Regions from separate parts of the Homo sapiens genome. Here region 2 is reported to be linked to region 1. Evidence: microRNA targets listed by miRTarBase, many of them from high-throughput screens and not tested one by one. Region 1 holds a microRNA gene; the other region holds the end of a gene's coding sequence.

What was found. Region 1 holds the annotated microRNA hsa-miR-4753-5p (CAAGGCCAAAGGAAGAGAACAG, at 1,434-1,455, shown strand). A microRNA usually pairs through its seed, bases 2 to 8, with sites in the 3' UTR of a target mRNA and lowers its output. Matches are read on the target gene's strand: a 7mer-m8 pairs with bases 2 to 8, a 7mer-A1 pairs with bases 2 to 7 and ends in A, and an 8mer does both.
Region 2: miRTarBase lists R3HDM2 as a target of hsa-miR-4753-5p. Seed matches in the 3' UTR shown: 7mer-m8 at 2,248-2,254.

What each region holds. Positions count from the first base shown.
Region 1 is chr1:235,188,393-235,191,540 of GRCh38, reverse strand. MIR4753 (microRNA 4753) reads left to right here and starts at 1,425; the gene lies at 1,425-1,507. All of the region lies in intron 19 of ARID4B (AT-rich interaction domain 4B), which reads left to right.
Region 2 is chr12:57,252,014-57,255,013 of GRCh38, forward strand. It overlaps R3HDM2 (R3H domain containing 2), which reads right to left. Exons shown (of 24, transcript NM_001394031.1): 24 at 1,751-3,000. The coding sequence ends at 2,760. Among named protein-coding and RNA genes, the nearest start is that of STAC3, 2.3 kb to the left of the region's middle.

The DNA.
Region 1 (3,148 bases):
CTCACTCCTGTAATCCCAGCACTTTTGGAGGCCAAGGCGGGCAGATTACCTGAGGTCAGGAGTTTGAGACCAGCCTGGCCAACATGGTGAAACCCTGTCTCTACTAAAAAAAAAAATACAAAAACTTTGCCGGGTGTGGTGGTGGGTGCCTGTAATCCCAGCTACTTGGGAGGCTGAGGCAGGAGAATCGCTTGAACCCAGGAGGCAGAGGTTGCAGTGAGTCAAGATCACACCATTGCACTCTAGCCTGGGTAGCAACAGCGAAACTCCATCTTAAAAAAAATAAAATAAAAAGAATATGTGACACATTCGCAGTGGATGTTATGTGGGAGTGTGCTCAGTCGTAGTAGCAGACTACTCTATATATATTCTCATTCTAGGCTTATGGTGATTTACCCCTATTTTTCACAAGTAGGTCAGAATGTTTCTGCTGGATAAAATGATGTCATTAGCTGATCTAGGTAGTGGCACATAAGACATGGAAGGGAGAGCTGGAATTTCATTGACACATAGTTGAAACAAGATAAATACAGATTTTAAAATCCAGTCTGGGTCACTCAGGCATTCAAAGACTACAGAGAGGCGGTAGCAGGTAGCTTAATGATAATAGCCTGCAGTATGACTTTCTTTGGAAATAACACTGCTGTAGTCTGGACTGGTTTCCCTCTATATCTGTTGCACAGCTATTTTCCTAGGGAGATCCCATTCTAGGGATCTCCTTTAATGTAGTTCTTGGATTTCTTTGTTTTTGGCATCTCAGGTTCCTCCCCACCCCCATACTTTCATTTTGGTGGAGCACATTCTCTAGTAGCTTCTAAAGAACAAGTGCATGAGATGGAATTTTTAGAGATTGGCTGCATTTAAATATCTGTATTTATTTTTGCAAATATCTTTATTCTATTCATAGTTTGGCTGGATTGGAAGTTTTTCCTTCAGTATTTTATTGGCAGTGTTGAATTGTTTTTTTGCTTCCAGTATTGCTTTTGTGAAGTCCAGAGCTCTTCCAATTCCTGATTCTTTGTATGTGACTTGTTTTATTCTTTATTTTTTGCTTTTCTGTCTCTGGAATCTTTTTTTTTTCTTTTCTTTTTTTGAGATGGAATCTCACTCTGTTGGCCAAGCTGGAGTGCAGTGGCACAATTTTGGCTTACTGCAGCCTCTGCCTCCTGGGTTCAAGTGTTTCTCCTGCCTCAGCCTCCCGAGTAGGTGGGATTGCAGGGGCCTGCCACCACGCCTGGCTAGTTTTTCTATTTTTAGTAGAGATGGGGTTTTGCCATTTTGGCCAGGCTGGTCTCGAACTGCTGACCTCAAGTGATCCACTCACCTCAGCCTCCCAAAGTGCTGGGATTACTGGCATGAGCCACCATGCCCTGCTAGGAATCTTGAATCTTTGTTTTTCGTATCCAGAAATTTAACTCTGAAATATATCTACACAAGGCCAAAGGAAGAGAACAGATATATCCACAGTACACTTGGCTGTTCTCTTTCTTTAGCCTTGTGTAGATATATTTTCATCCCCTGTGATGCCTACTTGCTAGACTCTTTCATTCTAGCAACTTCTGTCTTTCTGTTCTAGGCAGTTTTTTTGAATGATTTTCTTGATGATTTCCTCTCCTGCATTTTACTGTTCTCTCCTTTTTAATTTTTGTTCATTGTTACTATTTTTGAGATGAGGTGTTACTATATTGCCCAGGCTGGTCTCAAACTTCTGAGCTCAAGCGATTTTCCTGTCTCAGCCTCCCAAAGTGCTAGGATTACAGGCATGAGCTACTGTCCCAGCCCTGCCAAATTTTTTTTTTTCTTTAATTGAGACTGTGTTTCACTATGTTCAGCCCAGGCTGTTCTCACACTTCTGGGCTCAAGCAGTCCTCCTGCCTCAGCCTCCCAAGTAGTTGGGTAGCTGGGGTATAGGTGCATGACACTGCACTTGGCTGTTATCTTTCTTTGGCCAGCCATTATTTGATATTATACCTTCTGTAATATACTCTAATATGCTCACCTTTTAATTTCTTGCTTTTTATTAATTTTTTTGTCTTTTTATTTCTTTGAAATTTTATCTGCTTTGTCTTTTAATCCTTTTGTTGACTTTTTGCTGTAATGTTTAAGTTTTCAATGATTTTTTTTTTTTTTTTTTTTTTTTTGAGACTGAGTCTCACTCTGTTGCCTAGGCTGGAGTGCAGTGGCATGATCTCGGCTCACTGCAATCTCTGCCCTCCAAGTTCAAGCGATTCTCCTGCCTCAGCCTCCCGAGTAGCTGGTATTACAGGCGCCTGCCACCGCACCCAGCTAATTTTTTGTATTTTTAGTAGAGATGGGGTTTCACCATCTTGGCCAGGCTGGTCTTGAACTCCTGACCTTGTGATCCACCTGCCTCAGCCTCCCACAGTGCTGGGATTATAGGCGTGAGCCACTGCGCCCAGCCTTTCAATGAATATTTTTAAATTAAACTAGTTTAATTTTTCAAGAGCTCTGTTTTCTGTGTGTTTTGTACCACTCTGTTCTTATAGATGGATGCAATACCTTACCTTTCGGATTTTGATCTTTCAAAGGATTTTATAATTTTTGGTTTTTTCAGTTACCTCTAATTTGCTTTTTTCTGTGTTGTTGTTTTGAGCTCTTCCCTATTAAGAATTTTTTTTCCTGGCTGTCTTATGATTATGAAGGAAAGACTAAACTGATTTGGAAATTGCAAGCATATGGTTGGCACTTGTTGACCTTGAGTTTCACTATCGGGTGATCTGGTTGGCCATGTCCTAGGGAATTCATAATATGAAGTCTTTAGGTCTTTTTCTCTTAGACTAGTTGGCTTCCAGAGAAAAGAGTTCCAATCTCTTGACTGGAGGGTGGTAAGAGAATGGTTTCCAGTGTTCTAGGATCTAGTTGAAGAACAGAGAGTGGGGTGGAGGATTCTTAGTGGTTAGATATGTTCATGAATCCCCCTAATTTCAGCATCGCATCTGTACCTGTGCCTTCAACAGTTGTTAGCATCTCCCAGGCTAGGAGCCCTCTCCTACTGTCTTCAGAGAATAAAGCTCTAGAAGGGCAGTCACCTTCCAACCTGAAGTGAGGTGGGGATCTAGGCATCTAAGTAATTTTTAGTCTTCACCCAGTGCTCCTTGTATGAGGCTCCCCACTGCCCTTTTTAATT
Region 2 (3,000 bases), not on the chromosome of region 1:
TTCTAAGTAATGTCCCCTTCCTCATGAGAACTGCAAACTCTTAAAGGTAGGATGGCCAACCCTCACACTTCCTAAACCCTTTTGATTCCCTGATTCCATCTCCCACCTTTGATGCCTCAGTATATAACTGATGGATCAAAGAGACAGATGCCATTCTCATCTCACAGGGGTGCACCCTTCTACTCTTTGGGCTGTGACATGGATGAAAGAGGAGATACTCCCATCTCAGGGGAGAGCAATTTAGAGGTGGCAATGCAGTGCTGCTCTATTCCTTGTATCTGTAAGAAATAAAGGACTGTGTTGGAGACTGGGTCAGGCAAGCTCCTGTAGGATCGTCGTTAGGGATACAGCTACTTGGACCCAAGAGATTTCCAGGGCAACGTGCTTTGTCATTCTCACCCACTACTTTTTTCTATTTAAGGGGGGAGTTTGAAAAGGGGGTGCAGGATGGTTCTGACTCTGCAGGTTCTTTAATGGCCCTGCTCTGACAGGCTGCAGAACAACAGGGCTTGCTTTGAGATGCTCTAAAGGAAAAGCTCCATCTTGCAGGCAAGATGACTTCTGCTCTTCGTCTTTTTTCAGCCACATAGGACAGGGACTGCTGAGCATGTTTGGATAATACAGCATCTTGGCACTGCGAGTTCAGTTGCTGTAGCTTTCATTGTAATAAAAATCTGCTTCTGTCCCTGACAGGTAAAACCCAATCCTCCAGCTTTAGGATTAAAGAAAGGCAGCCAGGCACGGTGGCTCACGCCTGTAATCACAGCACTTTGGAAGGCCGAGGCGGGTGGATCACAAGGTCAGGAGTTCGAGACCAGCCTGGCCAACATGGTGAAACCCCATGTCAACTAAAAATACAAAAATTAGCTGGGCACGATGGGGCACAGCTACTCAGGAGGCTGAGGCAGGAGAACTGCTTGAACTCGGGAGGTGGAGGTTGCAGTGAGCCGAGATATCGCGCCACTGCACTCCAGCCTGGGCAACAGGGCGAGACTCCATCTCAAAAAAAAAAAAAAAAGAAAGGCCCAAGTTCTCCATCCCTAAAGGGTTTTCAGAAGACGAGCTGGGCTGGGAGTGGTGGCTCATGCCTGTAATCCCAGCACTTTAGGAGGCCAAGGCGGGAGATCACTTGAGCCCAGGAGTTCAAGACCAGCCTGGGCAACATGGTAAAACCCTGTCTCTGCCAAAAATAGCAAAAAAAAAAAAAAAAAAGATTAGCCAGGCATGCTAGATCGCGCCTGTAATCCCAGCTACTCGGGAGACTGAGGCACAAGAATCGCTTGAACACGGGAGGCGGCTGCAGTCAGCTGAGATCTGCCACTGCACTCCAGCCTGGGTGACAGAGCAAGACCCTATCTCAAAACTCAACTACAAGGGCCCTAAATGAGTACACAGTACCACAGAATTAATAGTCTGGAAGGAAACCTAGAGGTCACCTACTAAGTCCAAGTCTCTTATTTTACTGATCTGGACACAGATCCAGAGTTGAGAAGTGATATGCTCGATGAACCACAGTGGCAGAACCGGGAGAGCCCAAAGCCATGGTCCCATTAGAGATCTAGCCATCTATCAGAACCGTGTACAGGGAAGAGGATGAGACAGAGGGAATGGTGTTAAAATAGTGTGCGTATGCTAGAGAAAGCCATCCCAACCCACGACAAACACCTCCAACAGCTGTAGGGCTATACCTACCCAGGGCCTCCAACCCTTTACCCATACCAGGGCGGCAACAGAGAAACAGTGACTGATGTCCAGTGACAGATTTTTTTTTTTATATTTAAAAACAAAACCAACCTCCCCCCAAATAACCCCCAAACAAACAAAAAAACAGATTAAATAAAATTTACAGTGAATATACCCAGCAAACATCTGTATGTGCAATTAAATACTGTGTCTGTTACTGCGGCACGAACCTCAAACAAACAATATACAAGTGTTCTGGGGGGGCCAGGGGAATCCCAAGTTTTAACTCTGTGGGGTCTAGGAAGACAAGATGGGGAAGTGAGAGAATGGGGCAATCAATTTTGTTTATCTTAATTCTGTCCATATAAATATATTCATAAAGACCAAAAAAGGAAAGGAAGCTTGGGATGTTAAGGTAATAGGAGGACAGTGTGGGACTTTCCCAATTCTACCTGACCAAAAAATGAGAAATTAATTTTATGATAGGAGAAGAGATTTAAAAAAATGATAGAAGAGGATGGAAGCCAGGCACAGTGGCTCACGCCTGTAATCCCAGCACTCTGGAAGGCCAAGGCAGGTGGATCACCTGAGGTCAGGAGTTTGAGGCCAGCCTGGCCAACATGGTGAAACTCCGTCTCTACTAAAAATACAAAAATTAGCCGGGCATGGTGGCGCGTGTCTGTAGTGCCAGCTACTTGGGAGGCTGAGGCAGGAGAATCACCTGAACCCAGGAGCTGGAGGTTGCAGTTAGCCAAGATCGTGCTACTGCACTCCAGCTGGGGTGACAAGAGCGAAACTCCGTCTCAAAAAAAAAAAAAAAAAAAAAAAGAAGAGGATGGGAAGAAGAGTGATGCAAGGGGGGTCAACCAGGGAAAAAGAGAGGACCCATGGCAGGGGAGCAAGAAGGAGTCCAATGCCAGTGTAGGTATCTGTGTTTCCATCTTCATCACTGTCTTAGGTTCCAGTTTAACATCAGTTTCCTTACTTCCTGCCTCTGTCCATGGTCTGTCAGGATCCTTCAACCCCCTCCACCCTGCCCTTGCTCCTTCTGTGACAGTCCCTTTCCCCTCCTCCATTTATTGGGAGCTGGCTCGCTCCAGGATCCTCAGGTCATAGTTCTTTTTGGCCATTCGAAGTTTGAAGCGACTCACGGAGTTGTTGAGACGAAGGGAGGCATTTTGGGCAGCCAGGGGGCTGGGGAACACAGCCACAATGGTGTACAAGGCAGCGAGGTCCGAGTGGCGGCCATTCTCAGCAGTCCCACTGTTGTCCCCCCCACCCCCTCCAGGCAGCCCCTGAGCATCCTTGAGCCACTGG